Linked DNA regions of Homo sapiens: region 2 is linked to region 1. The links come from fine-mapping of genetic effects on gene expression. A gene starts in region 1. The other region holds a variant in brackets. All regions are shown on one strand. Distances are from middle to middle. Region 1 holds the start of LMNTD1 (lamin tail domain containing 1). Region 2 has its middle 130 kb from the start of LMNTD1.

Region 1 (2,920 bases):
AAACATAGGACTTGTAGGTCCAAAGTAACAATAGCTTTAAATTATGTATACTCAATAAGTCAATTTTAAAGAAAACATTGGAAAACCAATGGTAATGCTTTAGTTGATGAATGATTTATATTAAATGTAAAAATAGGGATTATAATTTTATATAACATTCTTACGGACATTTCCAAAACCAATATTCTGGTAATTTTTTTGTCCCCAGTTCTGTAAAATAGTTCTAGAAAGAAACTATTTCTGTAAATTGACTTAACATATTAAATGGGAACTTTGGAGGCCAGGCGCGGTGGCTCACGCTTGTAATCCCAGCACTTTGGGAGGCCGACGCGGGCAGATCACGAGGTCAGGAGATCAAGACCACGGTGAAACCTCGTCTCTACTAAAAATACAAAAAATTAGCCGGGCGTGGTGGCGGGCGCCTGTAGTCCTAGCTACTCCGAGAGGCTGAGGCAAGAGAATGGCGTGAAACCGGGAGGCGGAGCTTACAGTGAGCCAAGATCGCGCCACTGCACTCTGTCTGAAAAAAAAAAAAAAAAAAAACGGAACTTTGGCTGGAATCTCAGCTAGGTCTTATACTATGGAGATCTGTCCAGGTGGATTTTTATACTTCTCAAGGACTAGAACCTTCTAAAACAGTAGTTGTGGAAGTAGTTGTATGCTACAGTCCATTATTTCTAGAAAATTTGTGAGATATATTCTAGTTCTAACTGGTTCATAAGAGTATTGAAACAAAAGAGGTCAAGCATGCCATCATTCCTCCTCTATAACTCAGCTCTAACTCTGCTTCCATCGCATCTATGCATGCTCACTGTTTTTGTTTCTCATTCTTATCTTCCTGCTCATGGACTTTATTCTGCATTGCCTTCGAAGCTTCCTGAATGTCTTGTGTATCTTTCATCTTGGCTAGAAAAGAAGTCTCTTTTCTTTCCTAGGAAAGCAGATCATGACATCAGATGACGAATATGGCTGAGGTTCAAGGCAGATTTTTCTTTTCAAAGTGACCTCACCTGTTAATCCAACTACCTTCAAGCATCAGCTAGGTTTAATAATTTCTTTACCAAACTAGTACCAGAACCACAATTCTCATGAGGATATGTAAGTACCAACATAGCCAATCCTGATCTTGGCTAAGGATGTCGGACAAACCATGGTGCAGGTGTGTAGCATTCACTGGAAGCAGCTTGAGAGGGCAGTAACTTGGCAAAGAGACCTTTATGACTACAGTTGTTGCTTCTGGCCAACACTGCCTCTTAGAACTATGAGGTAATGTCTCCATAGTAACCAAGTTCCAGTTTCTGAACAATTCCTATGTTGATGCTGTACCTTCTTTGCAGTTTGCAGACATTAAATAAAGTAATTTGCTCTTAGGAAAGCCATATCTTCCACTAGACTTTGCCACCAAAATTATTGATATCTTGTTTTGTATTTCTAAGAGTCAAGGCCAGTATGTACATACTGGGGAAATTAATCACAACTCTTTTCTTCTTTTTTTTCTTTCTCTCTCTCTGGACAAATACTTTGAGCACATGGAAACAGCTAGGCAGCAAGAATAGAAACCATAAAACTTCAATGCAAAAAGAAGTCTATTGGTAGAAATCATAAAATCAAAGCCAGAACACCTAAATTCTTCTCCTAGTTATGCCAGCAGTATGATTTAGAAGAAATCACTTAATTCAGTTTCTCCTCTGTGTAAAACACTCACACTTAATGTTTCATGATAATGATAGTATGGCAATAAAATTAATAACTATGAAAGTACATGATTATATACAGTAATAAGATATATAAATGATGATTACTGGATGAGTAAGCTTATTAAAAATAGTTAATAAGATTCTACTATTTCTTAAAAACTGGCTAGGTACCATGAATAAACAATACCTGCTTTCAGAAATAATACTAAAATATCTTCTAATATAGATTTGAAAATGATTTTTAAAGACAATAAAGTAACTGTCTTAAAAAGCCAAAAAGAAAAAGTCAAGACGTGTAACACGTAATAAGGTAAGTTAAAAGGAAGTAAACGTTTGACCGTATTTCCTCCCTCTCAGAGATGAAGCACAATTCCTTATGAACATTATGGGCCAATTATGTAAATATAGCATCAGAAGGTTTATAAATTTTTACTTACGCTTAGTAAAGAATTAAAAATGGGCTTGTCATTTCTTGTCACTCTCCCAGTCTCCCTACCTGTACCAGTCTGGATGGCTTTCTAGCTGTTAAAAATTTCTCTACTTGAACTGCATATATTAGCATAAAGTCGTTATGACCTCATTGGTTTTATCAGAGAGCCTGCTCATATTTTCCAACATATTTTGGAGAAATAAAATTCTGTCAGCTGAGAAAAACTTTTGAAGGCTTTGAAGTTGTGAGTGTTTCAATACTCATTCCCCATAGTAGACATTTTTCTTATTTCCTTTTCTTAAATTACTGTATATATGCAATGAAAACCAATTTCCTCTTTTGTTGTTGCTTAAACTAATTTAGTGGTTTTCAACAGGGGCCAAAGTGAACCATAGAGAGCATTTTGTAAATGTAAGAGGATGTTGATAGTAGTCATTAAAGATTCGGGTCGGGTATTAGTGGCATTTGGTAGACAGAACCCAGAGATGCTAGACTTTCCACAATGTGGCAGATAATCCTACTTAGTAAATAGTGTTCCCACATGACACGTGCCTTTCTAGGCATTCATGCAGGTGAAAAATAGATTACAATTATCTGGCCAGGCACAGTGGTTCCCACCTGTAATCCCAGCACTTTGGGAGGCCAAAGGGAGTGAATTACTTGAGGTCAGGAGTTCAAGACCAGTCTGGCCAACATGATGAAACCCCGTCTCTACTAAAAAAATACAAAAATCAGCTGGGTGTGGTGGCGGGTGCCTGTAATCCCAGCTACTCTGGAGGCTAAGGCAGGAGAA
Region 2 (2,920 bases), 130 kb after region 1:
CATGCCCATTAAAATGATGTATAACCTAACCACATTTATTTAAGAATGTATTCTAATATAAAATGGCAAATTCCAACAACGCAAAAACCACAATTACTTTTGCATGCACCTTAATTCCTCTACACAAGCCAACTGGATGCAGGCTGTTAATCTCTCTAGACTTGCATCATGGACTTTGGTGGCTGCCCATTTGCTGGAGGCAGCTACAACCTTGAATCTTGGTGCTTTCTGCCTCCCTGGTGGATCCATCCTATCAGCCGTAGAATTGGCACAGGTATTCTTGGGCCAGGCCTATATTACTAAGGGGTGAATATCAGATTAACAACACTGCCCTCTGCTCTGACTTGCTAAGAATAAATATTTGTTGTGTCTCTGATAGATCCCAAACCATACCATTAACATCTAATGCACAAGAATGCTTCACTCTACATCAAAACTACACTATCGATAATCTGTGTAATGAACTTTCCTTTAATGTATTGAATGAACTTTAAAAACGTGTTAAGATCACATAGATGTGGTACCTGAGTGTTAGTGACAATCTTTGCAAATAATCAGTTTTTAGTAAATTATCTCTCAATTTTAGCACTGAAAGTCCTGCAAACTGAGATGGGTGGTCAGCCTAGGAAACGAGTCAATCTCTCTCATTGGTACTGATCTGTAAAGTAACGAAAGACTCAATTATTACTATGTATAAAATTATAACCTGATAATATTTTGTTAACTAGTCTCTTTTTGCCCATTTACACACCATAACTACACAGTATTTCCAGCTAAATGGGCTCTGAGCGGCCAGCCGGCCAGCACTGCGGGCCCCAGGCAGTGAGGGGCTTAGCACCTGGGCCAGCAGCTGCGGAAGGGGGCACCGGCTCCCTGAGCACTGCTGGCCTGCCTGCGCCATGCTCGAATTCTCGCCGGGCCTCAGCCGCCTCCCTGCGGGTCAGGGCTCGGGGATCTGCAGCCTGCCATGCCTGAGCCCCCCACTCCCCGCAGTGGGCTCCTGCAAGGCCCGAGCCTCCCTGATGGGCGCTGTCCCCTGCTCCGCTGGCCAGGTCCCATCGACTGCCCAAGGGCTAAGGAGTGCAGGTGCGTGGTGCAGGACTGGCGGGCAGCTCTGCCCGCAGCCCTGGCAGGCGACTTACTAGGCCAAGCCAGCTGGGCTCCTGAGTCAGGTGGGGACTTGGAGAACTTTTATGTCTAGCCAGAGGATTGTATATGCACCAATCAGCACTCTGTGTCTAGCTCAGGGTTTGTGGATGCACCAATCAGCACTCTGTATCTAGCTAATCTGGTGGGGACTCGGAGAAGTTTTATGTCTAGCTAAAGGTTTGTAAATGCACCAATCAGCACCCTGTGTCTACCTGAAGGTTTGTGGATGCACCAATCAGCACTCTGTATCTAGCTAATCTGGTGGGGACTTGGAGAACTTTTAGACCTAGCTAAAGGATTGTAAATACACCAATCAGCACCCTGTGTCTAGCTCAAGGTTTTTAAACGCACCAATCAGCACTCTGTGTCTAGCTCAAGGTTTGTAAATGCACCAATCAGCACTCTGTGTCTAGCTCAAGGTTTGTAAATGCACCAATCAGCACTCTGTGTCTAGCTCAAGCTTTGTAAATGCACCAATCAGTGCTCTGTGTCTAGCTAATCTGGTGGGGACT[T/C]GGAGAACTTTTATGTCTAGCTCAGGGATTGTAAATGCACCAATCAGCACCCTGTCAAAATGGACCAATCAGCTCTCTGTAAAATGGACCAGTCAGCAGGATGGGGGTGGGGTCAGATAAGGGAATAAAAGCAGGCTGCTTGAGCCAGCAGCAGCTCATTTGGGTCCCCTTGTCACTGTGGGTGATTTGTTTTTTTGCTCTTTGCAATAAATCTTGCTGCTGTTCTGTCTTTGGGTTAGCACCGTGTTTATGAGCTGTAACGCTCACCGAGAAGATCTGCAGTTTTACTCCTGAGGCCAGCGAGACCACGAACCCACTGGGAGGAATGAACAACTCTAGATGCACTGCCTGAAGAGCTGTGACACTCACCATGAAGGTCCCTGCAGCTTCACTCCTGAAGCCAGCGAGACCATGAACCCACCAGAAGGAAGAAGCTCCGAACACGTCCGAACATCAGAAGGAACAAATTCCGGACACACCATTTTTAAGAACTGTAACACACACCACGAGGGTCTGCGGCTTCATTCTTGAAGTCAGTGAGACCAAGAACCCACCAATTTCGGACACACTGGGATTACAGGCATGAGCCATTGTGCCCAGCCATGTTTCCTCTTTTGTATAGCAAGTACCTACCTGTTAGAATTGTAAGTTTTTATAAGCTTCTGCATGAAAGGCACCTGCCATGCTACCTCAAAAGATCATTGTGAAAATCTCACTCCAGTGGCTCTAGATTAACGGAACAAGACTAAAACTAAAAGCAGGAAGCCAATGTGTCGTGCTATGATTTGAGGAGGGTACATACATAAAATCCTTGACGCCCTTGCCTGTCCTTTCACAGTTCCTTTCCTTTGAGACTCAACATTTTTGTCACCTTAAATGGTTATCAGATGATCCCTTAGCACGCATTACTTCAAAGATAGTGGGAGAAAAAAATAACTGGGTAGAAAGACAACAGGAACACGGTTTGCTTTGGTTCCCTACTCAGAGACCCATAAGGCATATTAGCATAGTGAAGTCTCCCCTTGAGGAATAGATGGGTGAAAAGGTCACGGGGTGGAAAGGATAGGCTAGAGGCATTAAAGGTACACTTCACACCCTCTGCTCACTTAGCAAATGAGAAGAGGCAAGAGGGTTAGAGAGCTGATTGTTAAATTCCTGAGTCGGGGGGGTCGGGGGCTTCTGAATTTATACCCAGTCTTGTTTCGCAGACTAGATGTGTTCCGAAAAGCGAGCCTTCATACACGTTTATTAAGCACATG

Evidence for each region.
Region 2: its variant is fine-mapped to the expression of LMNTD1 in testis (GTEx, PIP above 0.99).

Annotation. Positions count from the first base shown.
Region 1 is chr12:25,552,059-25,554,978 of GRCh38, forward strand. LMNTD1 (lamin tail domain containing 1) reads right to left here and starts at 1,225. Exons shown (of 10, transcript NM_001145728.2): 1 at 1,011-1,225; 2 at 813-931. The coding sequence starts at 901.
Region 2 is chr12:25,685,552-25,688,471 of GRCh38, forward strand. No RefSeq gene overlaps it. Among named protein-coding and RNA genes, the nearest start is that of LMNTD1, 130 kb to the left of the region's middle. The variant T/C (reference allele first, on the strand shown) is at 1,662.